Linked DNA regions of Homo sapiens: all the other regions are reported to be linked to region 2. Evidence: microRNA targets listed by miRTarBase, many of them from high-throughput screens and not tested one by one. Region 2 holds a microRNA gene; each other region holds the end of a gene's coding sequence.
Evidence for each region. Region 2 holds the annotated microRNA hsa-let-7a-5p (UGAGGUAGUAGGUUGUAUAGUU, at 2,147-2,168, shown strand). A microRNA usually pairs through its seed, bases 2 to 8, with sites in the 3' UTR of a target mRNA and lowers its output. Matches are read on the target gene's strand: a 7mer-m8 pairs with bases 2 to 8, a 7mer-A1 pairs with bases 2 to 7 and ends in A, and an 8mer does both.

Region 1: miRTarBase lists POLR2D as a target of hsa-let-7a-5p. Seed matches in the 3' UTR shown: 8mer at 5,780-5,787.
Region 3: the mRNA of TMEM165 is a reported target of hsa-let-7a-5p. The part of its 3' UTR that is shown has no 7-base or 8-base seed match.

What each region holds. Positions count from the first base shown.
Region 1 is chr2:127,842,040-127,849,163 of GRCh38, forward strand. It overlaps POLR2D (RNA polymerase II subunit D), which reads right to left. Exons shown (of 4, transcript NM_004805.4): 4 at 1,514-6,146. The coding sequence ends at 6,068. It also overlaps the pseudogene RNU6-395P and the pseudogene RPS26P19. Among named protein-coding and RNA genes, the nearest start is that of POLR2D, 13 kb to the right of the region's middle.
Region 2 is chr9:94,173,816-94,180,939 of GRCh38, forward strand. MIRLET7A1 (microRNA let-7a-1) reads left to right here and starts at 2,142; the gene lies at 2,142-2,221. MIRLET7A1HG (miRlet-7a-1/let-7f-1/let-7d cluster host gene) reads left to right here. Exons shown (of 5, transcript NR_170278.1): 2 at 2,050-2,150; 3 at 6,005-6,106. It overlaps MIRLET7F1 (microRNA let-7f-1), which reads left to right and starts at 2,532; the gene lies at 2,532-2,618. It overlaps LINC02603 (long intergenic non-protein coding RNA 2603), which reads right to left. Exons shown (of 3, transcript NR_160773.1): 3 at 2,754-3,916. It also overlaps MIRLET7D. RefSeq lists an enhancer at 5,430-5,479.
Region 3 is chr4:55,424,311-55,431,434 of GRCh38, forward strand. It overlaps TMEM165 (transmembrane protein 165), which reads left to right. Exons shown (of 6, transcript NM_018475.5): 5 at 228-333; 6 at 1,066-1,865. The coding sequence ends at 1,142. It overlaps CLOCK (clock circadian regulator), which reads right to left. Exons shown (of 23, transcript NM_004898.4): 23 at 3,593-7,124. Among named protein-coding and RNA genes, the nearest start is that of TMEM165, 32 kb to the left of the region's middle.

The DNA of each region.
Region 1 (7,124 bases), not on the chromosome of region 2:
TGGTGGCTCACACCTATAATACCAGCACTTTGGGAGGCCAAGGCAGGCAGATCACCTGAGGTGAGGAGTTCAAGACCAGCCTGGCTAACATGGTGAAACCCTGTCTCTACTAAAAAAATACAAAAATCAGCTGGGCGTGGTAGCGGGTGCCTGTAATCCCAGCTACTCAGGAGGCTAAGGCAGGAGAATCGTTTGAACCTCGGAGGCGGAGGTTGCAGTGAGCTGGGATCGTGCCACTGCACTCCAGCCTGGTTGACAAAGGGAGACTGTCTCAAAAATAAATAAAATTTAAGCTTAAAATCCAGTTCCTAAGTCATTAGCCTACCATATGCAGAAGCTCCATGCAGCCAGTGGCTAGTACACTGGACAGTTCAGATATGGGATGTGCCCATCTCAAAGGAAGCTGTCTGACAGCTTTGCCTTGCGAATCTTTCAAAATTCCCAGTTGTCTCCTAGGCTGTTCCCCTCACCCCTATCTCACGGAGCTCTCTCCTCAAATTCTGTAATTTCAGGTATTCTTGTTTCTCCTTGTAGCTCCACACCGACGCTATTCAAAATGGGGGCTCAATAAACATTTGCTAGTAAGTACGCAGTGCAGGCCGGGCACGGTGGCTCATGCCTGTAATCCCAGCACTTTGGGAGGCCGAGGCAGGCGGATCATGGGGTCAGGAGATACAGACCATCCTGGCTAACATGGTGAAACCCCGTCTCTACTAAAAATACAAAAAAATTAGCTGGGTGTGGTGGCATACGCCTGTAATCCCAGCTCTCGGGAGGCTGAAGCAGGAGAATCGCTTGAACCTGGGAGGCGGAGGTTGCAGTGAGCCGAGATCGTGCCATTGCACTCCAGCCTGGGCAACAAGAGTGAAACTCCATCTCAAAAAAAAAAAAAAAAAATACACAGTGCCACACAACGGAAGGGAGGCATACACCGCTGCTTTGAACCTGCTCCATGTTTGATGGACTCTAGCAGATCTGCCCCTACTCTGCTGTCATTGAATGTGCATTCTCCTTGTTTAGTTCCAAACTGCTCTTCCGCTGATGAAGAGAGGAGAGCCGGGTGTAGGCACAAATACTGATCAGAATCTACCCAGGACCTGCAGTCTCCCTAGTCCCATCTCCCATTCAGGAGTTGCAAACAGGTACTTTTATCTAGTCAAAGATCTTTACAGAAACTTGAGAGCTGTAACCACATATATTTCCTCAATATTTCTCACCGCAATTGTTAGGTTAGACCCTGACAACTGAGCCACACCACTACTGGGACTGACCCTTGACCCAGAACTCTCCCCAAGGAAAACTTCAATATGAGCTGGATATTCAATAACATGCAATACTTGTCAATGTTCCTAAGTGCTATAATGCCCCATTCCTAGCAATGAAATACAGATAAAGCAAATAGCATGTTATCCGTTACATCAAGATGGTGAACACACAGGTATCAATGTACTAGTCTTTCCAGGTTTTCTGTTAAGTATAAAATTTTTTGTAAAAAAATTATCTGACACCAGTGGCATATTTAGTGCTTTTTATTAACAGTATTACTAAGGCAACTCATCGATGCTGAAGTCCCATCCAGTATGCTATTTTTCATGCCTCAGGTCTAATAAATCTTAATAAAACCAGAATGACTAGATGCTATGGTCTGAATGTGCCCCCTCCCACCCAATTGATACATTGAACCCATCACTGATGTAGTATTAAGAGGTGGGGTCTTTGGCAGGTGATTAAGTCATGAGAGAATATCCCTCATGAAGGGGATTAATGCCCTTATAAAAGAGGCTGCGGGCTGGGTGCAGTGACTCATGCCTCTAATCTCAGCATTTGGGAGGCGGAAACAGGTGGACTGCTAGAGGTCAGAAATTCCAGACCAGCCTGGGCAACATGGCGAAACCCCGTCTCTACAAAAAATAAATTAGCCAGGCATGGTAGCTCGTGCCTGTGGTCCCAGCTATCCAAGAGGCTGAGGTGGGATGATCGCTGGAGAGTGGGAGATTGAGGCTGCAGTGAACCTTAATCATGCCACTGCACTCCAGCCTGGGCGACAGAGCAAGATCCTGCTGTATCCAAAAAAAAAAAAAAAAAAAGCCTGGTCCTTCCATCCCTTCTACCATAAGGAGTGTTCATTCCCTATGGAAGATGCAGAAAAAAAGGCACCATCTTGGACCAGAAAGCCGCCCTTGCCAGACACTGAACGTACCAGCACCTGGATCTTGCATTTGCCAGCCTCCAAAACTGTGAGAAATAAATTCCTATTATTTATAGGTTACCCAGTCTAAGGTATTCTGTTACAGCGCAGGAACAAACTAAGACACTAAAACTTTCAGAAAGACTTATCTGGTTAATTTAGCTTTCTGGTGAAGTGAGGGTTTGACAACCTATCTTTTTGTTGTATCAGTATGTTCCCAAATTCTTTCCTGATTTTACACAGTACAATGAGCCTAACAATGTTTCACAAATTGTGCAAGGTCTCCTAATAGCTATTTTTCAATAGCAATATGCTGTCCAGCCCTGTAAACAATTTTTGACTGTCTTGCAGAATAGCTGACCAGGCTTTCAACCTACAACAGCATGAGGTTGCTTTACCAAGTTCCCTAGTATGAGCTGCTTTTTATTATTTTATTTTTTTTCAAGATGGAGTCTCGCTCTTGTTGCCCAGGCTGGAGTGCAATGGCATGATCTTGGCTCACTGCAACCTCCACCTCCCGGGTTCAAGCAATTCTCCTGTCTCAGCTTCCCAAGTAGCTAGGATTACAGGTGCCCGCCACCACACGTGGCCAATTTTTGTATTTTTAGTAGAGACAGGGTTTCACAACGTTGGCCAGGCTGGTCTCGAACTTCTGACCTCTGGTGATCCACCCGCCTCGGCCTCCCAAAGTGCTGGGATTACAGGTGTGAGCCACCGCGCCCAACTGTGAGCTGCTTTTTAAATCTGCTTTTAATCACCTTGATAAATACCACTGATTAGTGCCTAACTATGTGCCAGAGCATTATATACTTCAGTATTCTCAGGTAGCTCACAGAACCCCTGGCACATAGGTGGAAACACCAGTAAAGATGGTAGCACCGTGCTCCTCAGTTGCCATCTAGCACACGCCTGGATCGTCTGGGCTGCCTTCCAAGTCTCTTCTTCCCATTCCACTGCTTTAGTGCCAATCAGCACATGTAAGTGCCTCTCTCAAGAAATAATTCTGCAGTACTCACTTTGGCAGCACATATACCCAAATTGGAACAATACAGAGAAGACAGCATGGCCACTGCCCAAGAATGACATGCAAATTCATCAAGCATTAAAAAACGAAAGTTAACTGTAGATTTGGGTAAGCAATTTCACTTTTTTTTTTTTTTTTTTTTTGAGACAGTTTCGCTCTTGTTGCCTAGGCTGGAGTACAATGGTGCAATCTTGGCTCGCCACCCCCTCTGCCTCCCAGGTTCAAGCAATTCTCCTGCCTCAGCCTCCAGAGTAGCTGAGATTACAGGCATGCGCCACCACGCCCCGCTAATTTTGTATTTTAAGTAGAGACGGGGTTTCTCCATGTTGGTCAGGATGGTCTCAAACTCCCAACCTCAGGTGATCCGCCTGCCTCGGCCTCTGAAAGCGCTGGGATTACAAGGGTGAGCCACCACGCCTGGCCCAATTTCATTTATTTTCCAAGTCTGATACTATCAGTTGGTAGGCTAACAAATTCTTGCACTAATTTCTATGAAGCAAGCTGACTTAATCATCTATCTATACTAGCTCATCTGCCTGAGATGCTAAGAATAGTGAACATTTACTGGAACATACTATATATCAGACACCTCTAGGCTCTTTGTAATAATTTCCTGTTCATTCAACCTTCTCAAAATACCCATGGGGCAGATACTATTATCCATATTTCACAATTGAGAACACCAATGAGGCTCAAAGAAGCGAAGTTGCTCAAGGATAAAAAGATTGGCCGGTGGCTCACGCCTGTAATCCCAGCACTTTGGGAAGCCGAGGTGGGAGGATCACTTGAGGTCAGTTCAAGACTAGCCTGGCGAACGTGGTGAAACCCTGTCTCTACTAAAAACACAAAAAATTAGCCAGGCGTGGTGGCAGGTACCTGTAATCCCAGCTACTTGGGAGGCTGAGGCAGGAGAATCACTTGAACCCAGAAGGCAGAGGTTGCAGTGAGCCAAGATTGCGCCATTGCATCCTGGGCAACACAGCCAGACTCTATCTCAAAAAATAAATAAATAAATAAAAATAAGAATTTTTTATTCTTGCCTTATTTCGTAGCAAACATAAAACCATCCTGATTTTAAAAGCCAACACTGTTCTTTCTCCTTTTTCCTTGGATCACAAGTTCATACAGAGTCAAGCAAGTGCCCCAAAGAAAAACCCCAAAATTGAAAACAAGTGTATTCCCTTCAGAAAAATCAAAGCTAGAATGTTTAGCTATTGAAGTGTTTTCCCCCAGACTGAGATCAAGTGACTTCACTGCAGTGGCTCAAGAGTGGATGACTCCCTCCTTCCAAATAAAGCACTTATTGCTAATTAGCAGGCCAGAGGCTTAGACTGGATCTCTCATAATTGGAGACTTCAAAGTGTTCAGAACTTCAAGCCTGGCCTATGAAGTAAAAAAAAAAAAAAATTTTTTTAAGTAGAATTGCAATTTTATTTTTCTCCAGAGAAGTTTTTCTTCAGTCCTTAACAACTCCGCTCCTTATATGGGCTTTGGTGGAGGTCATGGGGCAGCACCTGCAGGTCTACGTTGGGGTGGAGGTGTTCGGTCCTTGCCTGCTTCATGAGCTCAATTCCTCACCACTGTGCTGTGAATGGCACAACTCACATGGTAATGTAGCTTCACATCCAGCCTGGGAAGTACACAGGCGTCAAGGATGCTCATTTCAGAAACATCGCTGACTGCTGCGGCCTCTACGTTTCAAATGATGAATTTCTTAGTAGCCTTGTCATTGGGCACACAACAACCACAGTTCATACAGCAAATGGGCTGCAGTGAACAGTGCACACCTGGTTGTGGACCTCTTTGGCACGACCATTGCTTCTTCTTTGTTATCTTGGAGGTGCAGGCCCAAGAAAGATGAAGTAAAAATCTTAATTTGAGGGTGACTAAATGAATCCTTCAAGACCACTTACCCCAAATCCACATTCTGCAAGACAGTTCAAGAAGAAAGGCAAAGTAGCCATCTATCTCAAGGGGCTATGGGCTCCACAATACTTAGCACTTGTCCCCAAGTGTAAACACTTCCCATGGCGTGCTTCTTCCGTCTCCCAGGTTAGGCACAACGATGCCAAGGTGCTGTCATCGACACTCCCATCCTTTAAGAATTTCAGGCCAGTTGTGGTGGCTCATGCCTGTAATCTCACCAGTTTGGGAGGCCAAGGCAGGGGGATCACTTGAGCCCAGGAGTTTAAGACCAGTCTGGACAGCATAGTAAAACCCCACCTCTATAAAAAATTTTAAAAATTAGCTGAGAGTTGTGGTGCACACCTGTGGCCCCAGTTATTTGGGAGGCTGAGGCAGCGGGGTCAAGACTTCAGTGAGCCATGACTGTACGACTGCACTCCTCCAGCCTGGACAAGAGTTAAGACCCTATCTCCATTTAAAAAAAAAAAAAAAAAGCATTTCAAACTAACAGCGGTTTAATTCTTCCTTTAGTATCTAGGTAAAACTGGTCTTTCTCTATAAAGTCTACTATCTTCTGGTCTAGTTTCAAAAAGTATAAACACCCTGAAATTAAAACATGAAATATTAAGAAAAAAGATGATGTGGAGGCCAAAAACCAGGAATGAGGTAGTCAACAGTGTGGTTATGTGACCCCTCATCTCACACTTCGCAGAGGCACGTTCAGGAAGCCACTGGCTGCCACTGCACAAGGCTGCTCCAAGATTCCATGTCACCTGGGCCTGTGAGTTATTTGAAACAGCAACCTAACCCCACGCCAAGCTGGGCTGTTTTCTCCAAAGGAATTCTCAACTGTCTTCAACAGAATTTCTGTGCAAGTCAGCCCCAGACAGTGGGAAGGTGGTGTTATGCCTGGGGATGTGGTTTCTCCGAGCAGCAGTGATGTTTGGAGATTAATACTGAAAGCTGCGCTTTGTCTGGATATCATCAAGAATCTGCTGCAGCTCCTCATCTTCAAACCGTCCCTCCAAGCTACAAGAAAATGAAAAGAAATGAGTGATTTGGCGACTGGCAATTTCCCCGCACTCTTCTTTGAGGCGTGCTAATCTACTGCCCACATCTCTAACACCTTTACCTTTCATCTGGATTTCTTTTCCACTTTTCCTGATAAAACATTACAAAATATTTCAAACATATAAAAGATAAAAGGTATAAAAAATATACCTTTACAGTTAGCCCCACTTGACTTAGAGGTTTTTTTTTTTCTTTTTTTTGAGATGGAGTTTCGCTCTTGCCTCTTAGGCTAGAGTGAAGTGGCATGATCTCGGCTCACCAAAACCTCCACCTCCAGGGTTCAAGTGATTCTCCTGTCTCAGCCTACCAAACGGAGTCTTGCTCTGTCGCCCAGGCTGGAGTGCAGTGGCGCAATCTCGGCTCACTGCAAGCTCCGCCTTCCGGATTCCCACCATTCTCCTGCCTCAGCCTCCCAAGTAGCTGGGACTGCAGGTGCCCGCCACCACGCCCAGCTAATTTTTTGTATTTTTAGTAGAGACAGGGTTTCACTGTGTTATCCAGGACGGTCTCGATCTCCTGACCTCGTGATCCGCCCGCCTCAGCCTCCCAAAGTGCTGGGATTACAGGCGTAAGCCACCACACCCAGCCCTCACCCAGCTAATTTTTATATTTTTAGTAGAGACGGGGTTTCACCACTGGCGAGGCTGGTCTCGAACTCCTGACCTCAGGTGATCCTCCTGTCTCAACCTCCCAAAGTGCTGGGATTACAGGCATGAGCCACCACGCCCGGCCCTGCATTTTTTCATTTACTGTCTTCATGTTTTCTAATGGTATCAACCTCCCAAAGTGCTGGGATGACAGGTGTGAGCCACCACACCTGGCCAGAGTTTTTTTTTGGGACAGAGTGTCGCTCTATTGCCAAACTGGAGTGCAGTGGCGCAATCTCGGCTCACTGCAACCATCACCTCTCGGGTTCCAGTGATTCCCCTACTTCAG
Region 2 (7,124 bases):
ATAAGCCTGCACCACCACACCCAGCCATGTTCAGTTCTCTAGAGTATATACCTAGAAATGGAATTGCTGGGTCATATGGTGAACTGTTTTTTACTCATCACTAACCAGTTCTGACACCAACAATCAATTCTTCAACTCGACACCAACAGAGTGTCCTACAATTAAATTTAATTCTGAAACTACCTGAAGTTAGTACAAACTTCACAGGTTGAGGGCTCAAACACGTAAGACTGCCCCCGCTTCAGATGCAGGTTTCTACCTGAATTTTTAACCAACCAGCTATAAATTAGGGGGTTTCACAACCTCTTCCACTGGGTCTATAATTTGCTAGGATGGCTTACAGAACACAGGAAGACACTCATTATCACTGGTTTATTATAAAGGATTTAAATGAATAGCCAGATGAAGAGGTCCTTAAGCTGAAGTCCAGGAGGGTTCCTAGCACAGGAGCTTCTGTATCTATGGAGTTAGGGTTACACCAGCCTCCTGGCATGAAGATGTGTTTTTCAACTCAGAGCTGTCCAAACCCTGACACTTAAGGGGTTTTTATGGAGGTTTCATACTTAGGCATGATTGATTACATTATTGGCCTTTGATGATTGGCTTACTCTCTGTCCTCTCTGCTTTACCTGGAGGTTGAGGGGGTGAGGCTGAAAGTTCCACCCCTCTAATCACACCTTGGTCTTTCTGGTGACTATCCCCCTCCTGAAACTACAGGAGCCACCAATCGACTCAGTAGCATTAAACAGACATTCATCACTTAGGAAATTCTGAGGGTTTTAGGAGCTGTATGCCAGCCAGGATCTTCAAATGGAGACAAAGACGAAATACGTGTTTCTGATTCCACTTAACAACTGTTTGACTTGTCTACAAGTTTTGTTCTCCAAAGCAGCTGCACCATTTCACATTCCCACCAGCAATCTAAGGGTTCCAATTTTCTCCGCATCCTTGTCAACACTTTTATTAATCTTATTAGCCATCCTAATGAATAATGTATCTTTTCATGTGCCTGTTGGCCATTTGTGCTTATGAGTCATATCTTTGGTGAAATATCTATTAAAATATTTTACCATTAAATTAGGTTGTTTTAAGTTACTTTAATGTGTGTTTTGCACACCAGTTTACAAAGAATGCAGATCCATTTTTTTTGCATGTGGCTATACAGCCGTCAGCATTATTTGTTGAAAAAACGATTCCCAGTTGAATTGTCTTGTCATGGTTGAAAATCAGTTGACCCATGTATGGGTTTATTTCTAGACTTTAAATTCTATTATATTGAGCCGTATGTTTTTTATTACGTTTTGTAATTTTAAAAATTAGTGCTTTTGGTTACTAAATCACTACAAAATAAATTTAGTCCCTATCTTAAAAGATAATCTTCGTAGTAGCTACCTCCTAAATATGAAGTCTGTAAATTAAAGGGTAATAATACAGTTTAGATTACTTGGGTTTATTAAAGATTTTGGACTCTGCCTTCAATCCACATATTACCTTTCTATCTAAAGGAAAGGATCCTGACCCTGAATCAGATCCAGGTGATTATCTTTGATTTAGTCCTAATAAGACCACTTAGTGTTTGCTCGCATGGGATAAATGAGTAGGTTCCTTTAAAAATTAGTTTCTATTTGTGTGTGTTTTTTATATTATCTCGTTGTATGTTAGTGCATTTGGATTATGCATGATGTACAGGACTTTTGGGTTTTGAAGTCATTGGATTTTTAATTAGAGGCTGTCATGTTTTTCTGTAATGATTTTTTGTTGTTTCTTGAAGGATAAGTTATTTCATGCATTTTCATTTGTAGGAACTGTAAGAAAACCAGCAGTTAATAATAGTAAAAGGTGGTGGTAAGAGGGTGATTTCTGAATCTTGTAAATACATGGTTTTAGGAGCGGATTCAGATAACCAAGCATTTAAAATACTATTAATGAAATACAGGAAATGAAACCACAGCATAGATTATGCATGTAGCCAAAATGTTCAGTTAAACTTCATTTTCAACGTAAGTGAATGAAAATGGTCTAATACTATTTTTCTTATCACTCACACAGGAAACCAGGATTACCGAGGAGGAAAAAAAGCCTTCCTGTGGTGCTCAACTGTGATTCCTTTTCACCATTCACCCTGGATGTTCTCTTCACTGTGGGATGAGGTAGTAGGTTGTATAGTTTTAGGGTCACACCCACCACTGGGAGATAACTATACAATCTACTGTCTTTCCTAACGTGATAGAAAAGTCTGCATCCAGGCGGTCTGATAGAAAGTCAGTTAACTAATTGTACAATATTTAAGATTAACTTGTCTTAAAGAGATGTAGTGCAGCATTTGTTTATGGCCTGGAAATAAATTAATTTAGAGATAAAGTCTGTAGCAAGTACACTGGATGGGGGTGGGGAAACCTTTTGCTTCTTGTCTTATTTCTCTGTGTCAGAATAAATGTATTTTTTTATTTTGATTTATGCTGATAATTTTATGTTGAAATTTTCTTTCGAAAGAGATTGTACTTTCCATTCCAGAAGAAAACATTGCTCTATCAGAGTGAGGTAGTAGATTGTATAGTTGTGGGGTAGTGATTTTACCCTGTTCAGGAGATAACTATACAATCTATTGCCTTCCCTGAGGAGTAGACTTGCTGCATTATTTTCTTTTTATTTAGATGATATTAAAACTCAGAAGAATTAATTTTGACATTTTGTATTTACAGTTTATCAGTTAATTTTCTCTGTTCAAGTAGTACAGTAGGCACAGATTAACATTTAAATTTTTCACATATGGTATATTTCAGAAATTTGAAGTTAAGCAAAAATTTTAATGAGTAGAGAAAGTAAGTAGCCTTCAGGAAATCTTCATAGAGGACCAGGCCCTTTTGGAATTGTGAATAGGTTTATTGCCTTACATCCTGGTACACATGTCCAAGGTCAGGTCCTGGGTGGTAAAGGTAAATACAAATTGGAAGGGCACTGTGTGAGCCAAAATGAGTCAGATTAGTCATGATTCATTTCCAGTTTGGGTTTTGGGTGGTCTTGGAGAATGTTGTAAGCACTGCTTCATTGATAGGTTGATTGAGCCAGACTTTACTCAGCAGCCTGGAAAAGGAGAGATGGGCTCTGGGTTCTACCTTTGCTCACTGGTAAGTTGCTAAGATTTCAGCTTTGCCCTCAAACCCTGAAGTAGTCCTTCATTCACACAGTGGGATCACTCGAAAATGTCAGATGGGGAAGTCCATAGGTTGTTACTTTAAAGAAAATAGAAAAAATGCTGGAAAAGGTTTCTTCAATTTTAATACCCATGAAGGCCCATGTTTTAGCTTTCCTCCGATGGGCAAACCATACACTAACTTGGGCCTTGTAATCAACAAGCAAGGCTAAAAGCTCTCTAAGTGCTTGCTGTTTAAACTATTTTGTGTTGGAAGAAGAGTTGGAAAAGAGGCAGTGTGGAGGTGAGGGAGAAGTTCCCTCCCTCCAATCATTTCCAATAAATGGAAATTTAAGGAGAAATTTGTGTTTATCCTTAATATCTAAGATAATCACTGTGCAGTGCCATTGGTACTTTTCATGAGAGTAGAAACATCAAACTTCCTTGGATGGGCCCAACCCAGGTGACTTAACTCTGGACCAAATGTATGCTTTTTGTTTTATCCACTGTGGACAGCTGCATAGATAATTGGTCTTTGTTCTAAACTGCACATAAAAACATGGGAGAAAATGACATTTGTTGCCTTTTGATGTGCCAAAGAAGAGTGGGAATGTTCTAAGAATTCTTTTTGGCTTAATCTTTGTTGAATTGAAAATATGTATAACTCTTCTGCTGAAAGTGTAGCAAGTACAGTCATGAAATTTTGTGGTCTTCCTGACATGTTCTTCCAGCATAACGTTGCCACCTTCAGTTGGAAACGTATCCTTATCTAATAATTAAGCCCTGGAGAAAAATTAATTTATATATTTTATTAATTACATAAGGACATTGTTATTAGCTAAGCAGAGTAAGTAAATCGAAATAAAACTTTAAAAATGCCTTTATGGAGAGAATGACTATCTCTGAAAGCTTGTTTTTAATGATGATAAAATTCATGATCAGAATTTGTTTCTGTTTGCTTTAATTCAGGGGTCAAAAACTGAAATACCATCAGAGGCCCAGGAGGGGCTAGTTGTAACTGGCAAATATAGTAAATTAATTTGCTCTGGTTGATAGGTAGCAAGCAGGGTTTATATACATTGTCACCTACTTTTCCAGTTAACAGGAGAGACTGGAGATTTTATGAAATTTGATATTTAAATGTTGGTAACTGGGTTGGGCACCATGGCTCACACCTCTAATCCCAGCACTTCGGGAGGCTGAGGCGGGTGGAGCACCTGAGGTCAGGAGTTAAAGACCATCCTGACCAGCCTGGTGAAACACAGTCTCTAATAAAGATACAAAAATTAGGCCGGGTGTGGTGGCTCATGCCGGTAATCCCAGCACTTTGGGGAGGCCAAGGTGGGCGGATCACCTGAGTCAGGAGTTTGAGACCAGCCTGCCTAAATGGTGAAAACCTGTTTCTACTAAAAATACAAAAAAGTAGCTGGGCGTGGTGGTGGGCGCCTGTAATCCCAGCTACTCTGGGGGCTGAGGCAGGAGAATCACTTAAACCCAGGAGGCAGAGGTTGCAGTGAGCCGAGATCACACCACTGTACTCCAGCCTGGGTGACAGAGCGAGACTGTCCAAAAAAAAAATTGATAATTAAATGTTAAAAGTCAGCGACTCCAGTAATACGTGGTGGGCTGAGTATTAGACTACTGGCTTACATCCTCTGATGTCATTACTTTCTTGTTCGTTTGTGACTTGAGGTTGGATTTTAAGCAAATGTATTTGTGGCTTTTTACCAAGGTCATATGGCCAGATAACTTTTCAAAAGCATTAGTTAAAGAATTCTGATTAGTTTGAATTAGAAACAAAACTCAAAGAACATGACCTAATTTAACAGGTTAATTTGAAGTGCATCTGCCAAGTAGAAGACCAGCAAGAAAAAAAAAATGGGTTCCTAGGAAGAGGTAGTAGGTTGCATAGTTTTAGGGCAGGGATTTTGCCCACAAGGAGGTAACTATACGACCTGCTGCCTTTCTTAGGGCCTTATTATTCACCGATAACCTGTTTCCTTGCTACTTTGCTTTGGTGTAAGCAGAGTTCTTTCTGTAGGTTTTTTCAAATGAAAACATTGCAAGAATATCAAAGAGAGCAGTGTTTGCGTTAGTGATTATAAACTGCAGCATGGTGCTGACATTGATAACTGAAAGTCAACTAATGAGAATTTGAGACTTCTGAAGTACACTTAGTTGCTAGTGTCTCCCTTTTGGTGTCACTGGAAAGTTTAGAAAGCATGGTTTTGTTTTTGCTCAGGTTTCTCTTTCTGTGATGCAGAGACTCTCAGCTGTTCCTCCTCTATGTCTACATTATGTCTGAAGGAAAGAATTTAACAAAACTTGAAATACTGCTGTTTTTCTACAATGTTTGTAAATATTTATCTTGCTGCTTTTCTAGGTTTGTCTTCTGGATTTAAAATTTGGGGCGGCTGGGGTGGAATTGCATGGTTTGGGAATGGGTAATTGAGCTGCTGCTCATTATGGTATGTAACAGTGATTTGTCTGTTTAATATGTACAAGAACTGGAAGGTCAATAAAATGAAAGTGGTTGTCTTGACTGGGTAATAGTGTTACATATTTTGTTAAAAGTTATACATCTTTTCAATAAAAACACTGCATACTTCAAAACTAGTGCTTTTTAAGTCATCCTTAACCCTTATCCCCATCCTTGCAGTAGTAGATGCATTTTTCATTTGTAATTATTATGATTTGTTCTTAGTTTCATTTTTCATTAGCAATAATTTGGTGATTGGATGGTCATTTACAGATGTTTTAATAAAGCTAACACGAGCAATTTCCAGCTCTTCCATTTTTGTAAACACTTGTGTGACTTTGTACAGACAATTAACTGCTCAGGATCACCCTCCTTTTTGTTTTGTTTTTGAGATGGTCTCATTCCGTCACCCATGCTGGAGTGTAGTGAAATGATCACAGCTCACTGCAGCCTTGACCTCCCGGACTCAAGCTTCCTAGTAACTGGGACTACAGGTGCATACAACCATGCCTGGCTAATTTTATTTTTGTAGAGACGGTTTCACCATATTGCCCAGACTGGTCTTGAACTCCTGATTATCCTCTGGCTTTTACCTCCCAAAGTGCTGGCCAGGACAGCCTCCTTTCTTTACTTGAGTAATTATTTGAGTTTGCTCAGGCAGACACTACCTTGTAAAAACTCTTATGTCTCATTTCACTAGTCTAGTTTGAGCATTTATCATTCTAGGAATGAGACGAATTTGTGCATTAGCATTCCATCTTTTTCCAACTACTATGAACAGTAGTATTTTTTTTTATTTTATTTTATTTTTTGAGACAAAATCTCACTGTTTCCCAGGCTAGAGTGCAGTGGTGTGATCTCAGCTCACTGCTGCAACCTCCACCTCCTGGGTAGAGTAGACAGGATTTAGGTAATTTTTTGTATTTTTATTAGAGACAGGGTTTCACTATGTTGGCCAGGCTGGTCTTGAACTCCTGGCCTCAAGTGATCCACCGGCCGTGGCCTTCCAGAGTGCTGGGATTACAGGTGTGAACCACCCTTGCCTGATCATGAGCAGTAATACATTTAAAAGTCTCCAGGGGTGAGAAAGTTGAAAGGAAATTCAGTGGAGTTTCCCATCCTGCCCCTCTGCTGCCTAGCCCCTTGCTCCAGTGGAAGGAAGAATCGTGATCTAGGGATGTTCTCATACTTGGGGCTTTAAATTTCCTTTATGAATTGAGATGGTTGGGTATGTTTTCTAAGGTACCTTACATGGTACAGTTCTTTAAAGTTGAAGATTTAAGTTGTGGCAAAATTGCATCAATTTCATGTGCACTGATTTAGGCGAAGATGCGTAGGAAAAGAGCAAGGAAATGAGGTGTGATAGGATTGGGGTAATTTCAAAATGAGTATTTCTGCCTGGCCTAGTGGTTCACGCCTGTAATCACAGCACTTTGGGAGGCCAAGGCAGGCAGATCCCCTGAGGTCAAGAGTTCGAGACCAGCCTGGCCAACATGATGAAACCCCATCTTA
Region 3 (7,124 bases), not on the chromosome of region 2:
AATTGATTTGGGTTATTTCAACTTTTAGGTCTAGTCTTAAGTATAACTGGTACATATTCCTTCAAGCAGCCATTACACCTCTCATAAATTTATTATACACCTGCATTTTTATAACTATTATGCTTTTTAATTGTTGGCCACCATTTTTAGTGCTTCTGAATTGTTATGGTTCTCAAGCAGCAGTTGTCACCTTGGTTTTGAATTAATGCTGTGACGCTTGCTTCCAGGACCCCTATGGTGTAGCCGTGGGTGGAACTGTGGGGCACTGCCTGTGCACGGGATTGGCAGTAATTGGAGGAAGAATGATAGCACAGAAAATCTCTGTCAGAACTGGTAAGTCTTGAAAATTACAAATCAGATAACATTTTAGAATCACTGAGAGATTAAAGGGTGTTAGCTTTGATTATTTAAATTTCTGCTGCTGAAGTATACTTGGTTTTTCTAATTACCTACCATCTCTTATAGAGGTATTAATCCTGGTATTGCAAATACGGACTTTTTTCACCTGTGTAGAAGTTAGCAAAATACAAAGTCATTTTTATCGAATTCATAGTAGCTTCTTGTTAACATATTATCTTAGTAAAACAATTGTCATTTGGAAGTATGAGAAGTTTTTGGCTCTAAAAATGTGTCTTACAAGACTGGAATCATGTGGAGACCATATGTACTGATTCTGCTGAATATGTCCTGTGAAGCCACAGTTAGGTCTAGAGATGGAAGAATCGTCTCTTTGCTAGTCAGAAGACCTGAACATTTTCTTTTATAACTGGATTTTAAGATGAGTTATAGTTCTACTGTTGCTTGCCAGCACTGTCTGGATTTAATACAATCCTGTCATTTCTCAAAACAGTGCTGGAGAAAACCTGATTCTTAGTGTTCACAGTCAAGCATGTTAAGTATTGTTCCTTGTTATGTAAAAGGGGTTGAAGTGATTCTAATTTGTTTTCAAGGTTAGTTTAATAGATTGGAAGAATAATTGGCCGCCTCATCGGCTCCCTTTTCATTTTGTACAGTATCAAGGTATAGGAATTTTACTGTATTTGACTTTTTTTCTCTCTCTTCCAGTGACAATCATAGGAGGCATCGTTTTTTTGGCGTTTGCATTTTCTGCACTATTTATAAGCCCTGATTCTGGTTTTTAACAAGCTGTTTGTTCATCTATATTTAGTTTAAAATAGGTAGTATTATCTTTCTGTACATAGTGTACATTACAACTAAAAGTGATGGAAAAATACTGTATTTTGTAGCACTGATTTTGTGAGTTTGACCCATTATTATGTCTGAGATATAATCATTGATTCTATTTGTAACAAGGAGTTTTAAAAGAAACCTGACTTCTAAGTGTGGGTTTTTCTTCTCTCCAACATAATTATGTTAATATGGTCCTCATTTTTCTTTTGGTGCAGAACCGTTGTGCAGTGGGGTCTACCATGCAATTTTCTTTCAGCACTGACCCCTTTTTAAGGAATACAAATTTTCTCCTTCATCACTTAGGTGTTTTAAGATGTTTACCTTAAAGTTTTTCTTGGGGAAAGAATGAATTAATTTCTATTTCTTAAAACATTTCCCTGAGCCAGTAAACAGTAGTTTAATCATTGGTCTTTTCAAAACTAGGTGTTTAAAAAAAGAGACATATATGATATTGCTGTTATATCAATAACATGGCACAACAAGAACTGTCTGCCAGGTCATTCTTCCTCTTTTTTTTTTAATTGGGTAGGACACCCAATATAAAAACAGTCAATATTTGACAATGTGGAATTACCAAATTAAAAGAGAATACTATGAATGTATTCATATTTTTTCTATATTGAATAAACAATGTAACATAGATAACAATATAAATAAAAGTGGTATGACCAGTGCTTGTTTTTCCTTGTGTGTCATATAAAATTATCAGTATTGATAGGCCAATTTCTAAAGCTGATGTAAAAACACTAACATATTAAATATTTGAGATATGCCTAAAGTAGCTAAACAGGAGCCAGGCATTGTTCGAAAGCATTGTCACCCTTACAGTTCTGTGAGGTAGTAGGTACTAATATAAGGTTAAAAAAGAAAAAAACTAACTCACCCAAGGTTACATGGTAGAGTCACACCAGGCGGTTTAATTCCAGAGCCTAATGTCATTCATTATGCTAAGACTACCTCATTTTTTCATGGCAACTTCAGTCGTCACCCTCGTTTGAGTATATTTTGATTTGACTACTACTTCACCCAAGTAGCATAACAGCTGCTTTCTCTCAGCCTTTTATATTCTAGAATCATATGCAGTAACATTCCCATTAATAGCCTCACTAAATTGAAGGACAATTCTACAGAAACATCCATGTTATTTGTGTGAGGTATAATAGGAGACCCAGAGCAATTCAGGTTTATGAGCTACTACAAAGGTCCACAATGTAGTCTGCAATTTGAAGAGATTGTGAAAGAACCCAGTTAATCATCCAGCACTGTAGGATGCAGCAATTGTCCTACATGGTAACTCTGTGAGGAAGATGATAGCTACTACTGTGGAGATCTTAAGAGGAGTTTTCAGCTTAAATGCCAAGTTAGAAGTAGCACATGTTGGTAAAAAAGGTCATATTTGTAGTTTTCTGCTATAGGAAGTATCAAAGGGTAGAAAACAATGTCTGTGGATTAAGATAAACTCTGTGGTTAGACAGTCTATATTGCCTTAGATTGTTTGTTTGTTATAAAGAAAGAGTGAGGAATTCTCACTAGTATTTTTTTTTTTTTTTTTGAGAGAGTCTCACTCTGTCGCCCAGGCTGGAGTGCAGTGGTGTGATCTTGGCTCACTGCAACCTCCACCGCCCGGGTTCAAGCAGTTCTCCTGCCTCAGCCTCCCGAGTAGCTGGGATTACAGGCGTGCACTACCACGCCTGGCTAATTTTTTGTATTTTTAGTAGAGATGATGGAGTTTCGCCATGCTGGCCAGGCTGGTCTCGAACTCCTGACCTTATGATCCGCCCACCTCAGCCTCCCAAAGCGCTGGGATTACAGGCGTGAGCCACCATGCTTGGCCTACTAATACGTTTTGTTTGTTTGGAGACAATCTATCTCACTCTGTCACCTGGGCTGGAATGCAGTGGCGCAATCTCGGCTCACTGCAACCTCTGCCTCCTGAGTTCAAGCAGTTCTCCTGCCTCAGCCTCCCAAGTTGCAGGGATTATAGGTGCCCGCCACCACGCCTGGCTAATTTTTTTGTATTTTCAGTAGAGACAGGGTTTTACCATGTTGGCCAGGCTGGTCTTGAACTCATGACCTTAGGTGATCCACCCACCTCAGCCTCCCAAAGTGCTAGGATTACAGGCGTGAGCCACCGCACCCAACCGTTTTTTCTAATAACAACAGAAAAGACAATTCCTCGTAGGGAGTAGCTGGCACCATCATCGTGTAACCTCAGTTCAGGTAGCTTGGTCCCATTACTAGCTTCATATGCGAATAAGAACAGCATCGCATTCTGAGGCACCACAATCTTGTAGCAGGACATAATTCCTCTGAGAATTTTTGGTAAGTCAGACCTAAGCTATAAGGTAAAAATCGCTACTGCAATAGGCTCCATTGTTGAATAAAAGAAAGGGAAATGTCATTGATAGTGATCTTAAAATATTTAATAGTCTTTCTTTAAAATCCAAAATGTGATTCTTACAAGTTATGTGCCACATGAAGCAGGTGTTATTTTTTGAGAAATGCAGGTGATAACTGAAAAACATAGCACTGAGGTATTTTTTATTTTTAAAATTGAAGGAAACAAAGTCTGGATCTAATTATTTTTACATTTACAAAAACTGCTACTGCTTGGCTCTTTTGCTATAAGTTTAGGTTCTGAATACATGACAAGAGTATGGGAAAGAGCAGAATAATAGTACACGCAGTTTTAAAAGCTATGCACATCATAACCTGGAATAATGATTACACAGCAAGAGGCCTGAGTGGAGGTAGGCTAACAACACATTTTGACTTTCTCCTCAAAGGATAGCTTTGAAAAACAAGTGTAACCAATTGTTACACCAAATTAAAATGGCAATATTAAATCGGTAACAAAACGATCCACATTTTATACAATATTGTATTTCCAAACATACATAGGTCATGAAAATCAGAGAACCTAATATAGCACCGTTGAAACCATTCATTATCCTTCATGTGTGTATGCAATTCAGAATTTCGGCAGAAGACAACAAATGGAAAATGCCTTTCGTTTCTATAAATCATTTTGGATTTCAATTAAATCTTTGCCTTAGTAAAGGGTATTCTTATCTCAAGATCAATTAGCCGTTTTTAGCTCCACCGTTTTGGAAGTAAAAATGATGAGCTACATCTACTTTTTAATTTAAAACCAAGAACCAAGCAGTAAGGACAGCAATGTCAAGAATATCACATTGAGAACCACACAGAACATTATAAAGAATTTGGTGCATGTTTTAACAACTACCAACTGATGTTAACAATGAAAAATTTACAAAGGTAAAACTTTTTTTTTTTTTTTGCACTGACTGGTTTCAATACAGCACTGAATTTAACTCATCTTTGGGCTTCAATCTTTACATAGAGTGAATATGAAAATGCCATACTGAGGCCTTCCCCAACTTAAACCATAGTAAAGATTTCAAAATCATTCCAGTATGGTCTGAATGGTAACTGTTCTGGCTGACACATCTTTTTTTTTTTTTTTTTTTTTAAAAAGACATTTCCTGGCCAATTTTTTTGCTTGAAGATGATTGTCTGGTTATACAAGACATCAATCTGAAGGTAACAACTTATTTTAACTTAACTACTGGCATAACCATTGCCAGCAGTGAACTTGCACTAGTCCAAGCCAACTCAAAAACACACATTATAAACATTTGAATGTCATTTTTAAAAGCGATGTCACAGTTTGTTTCCTAAGAAATTTAAAAGCTTTTATTTGAAAACGTATCTTCAGTTTAACCCTCAGAGTTAAGAAATATTTTTTAGATCATTAAATTCAATTGTGGTTGACGTGCTTTAACTACCGTTCTCTAAGTTGTGTGCTATACCTAGCCTGTGGGACTCCATAGCTTCTCTGAGTCCTAAAGTGGAGGATTCTGTTCCAATGCTTGTGAGCAAGAAGGATCCTCAAATGTCTAGGTTTCCAATATTCCAACACTGCTTTACTGGGCAGTGCTGTGTATGGAAGTTTTGTTTTGTTTTCAAAGGACCAAGTAACTTGACACCATATTAAAGACAGCAAACATTTTTTGTAGAAGTTTACAGCCTGTATACATTATTCCGCCAAATTTAAGAACTTTAAATGGATTTTAATATGGATATGATAATGACAGCCATTAAAAGATGCTATTTCTTTTACTAACATTTCCCCAAATGGGCAAAATAGAGGCATCATGTGCCATTGGTTCTGTCATACTGGCCTTTGACTGTGTTGGGGAAGTAATCACACAAAAAGTGCCCATAAAACAAAGAAGGCAGCAAGTGAAACTAGAAAAAGGTTGGAACTGTATGAATCAGATTTGAAAGGAGTTATTTCTAAAATTCTTTCTTAGATGACTTGAGGAGGGAAGTGCAGGGGCATCTGGAGTTGGCCCCTCCACTGCCGTCCTGAAGTAAAGTAGATTCAGACTGTCCGTAAAGATTATCATGAGAGTTGGTGACTGCACCCCAAATCAGAGCCAGTTCCCTAAGAAGAATATGGTGCAAAACAAAACAAACCACACATTAAATACATGACACCGAAATCACTTTGATGAGAAAACAGAACACACAGGTATTTTAAAATATAAATAAATACATTTAGCCATTTTTATTCAAGAACCCCAGAGAACTGCTTTAAAAGCAATTGCTTCTTTGAACCCCTTTCTAAATTCTTTCATAAATACTTACTAGTTTGATTGTCACTTAATGCAGCACCTCAGTGTTTGCTGGTGGTGGTGATGGAATTTCACTTAGTTGTCTCTCCATAAACTATATCCTATTCCACTAAATAATGTTTCCCTGAGGAAACCCAGGCAGCTTACAAAATACTGTTATAAACACTCACAACAAAACCTGCAGAGTATTTTATTTAAGAAAAACAAGGAATGTAGTGTTATGACATAGGGGGAAAAAACTATGCAAAACAGTCACATGGAAAGAAAGTATTTTAATTTTTAAAATCCAAGTTTGCTTAATTTCTTGTGAACTGTTCAACACTGTTTTAAATATCCTGAATAACTGTGCCAACAAAATTCATCCCCAGTGTTTCCACAGGAGACATTAAAATTAAAGACCAAATTATACTATTTTTTTCCTTTAACCAAAGTATTCTTTTTCTCAGTCCTTTTTGTGCAAAAATATTACAAGAGCAATTCAAATGGAAATGCTGAAATGACATGCCAACATTTCAGGGCACATTTAAAACACTCAGAATAATTCTTGAAATTATTATATTCTAAAATGTTACTAGCAATCACTTTTAGATTAGTTCTGTACATCTACTCACACGGATGCAATTTTCCTAGACCTCTGAAAAATAAACAGGCTCATTGGTCTCTTTTGGTGTCCACACAATAGGCAAGATAGGTTTACAATAGTGTTTAAATCAAACTAGGCATCTACAATCTCTTGACTCCACCACATTCAAAACAAAAATCAAAGTTCATTTGGCTATCTTGAAATCACTCCCATAAACCAACTACGGTTCACTGGACCTAAACATTTCTCAGAAATGTGTCATTTTATATAATTTCACCTAAGTAAGTGATGATTTGGGGATCCTTTAGAAATGGTTAACGCCTAAGAATAAACTTTATCAAAATGAGTAATTGCAATAAAGTGCTTGTTACATTTCAAAATGATGCTTTTAGACTGTGGTATGTTGTTTTAAAAGTGTGTGCTATTCCTTCCGTAAAGGATCCCCAGGCATGAGAGTTGGGTCTTCTCACCTGTCTCATAAAGCAGCAGCACTATCTTTTGGTAGGCTGACAATAGGCACATTACCCATGCGGATGAGGCTATACTAGTGCTATGGCAAAAGGGGAAGTAAATTAGAAAAGTGGGAGGCATGTAGAGGGTTCCTATTATAGTTATATACAAATATATTAAATATACTATAAAAATAGTCGATTCTATTCCTTTGCAATTACTTCAGAAGCTCCTTTTAG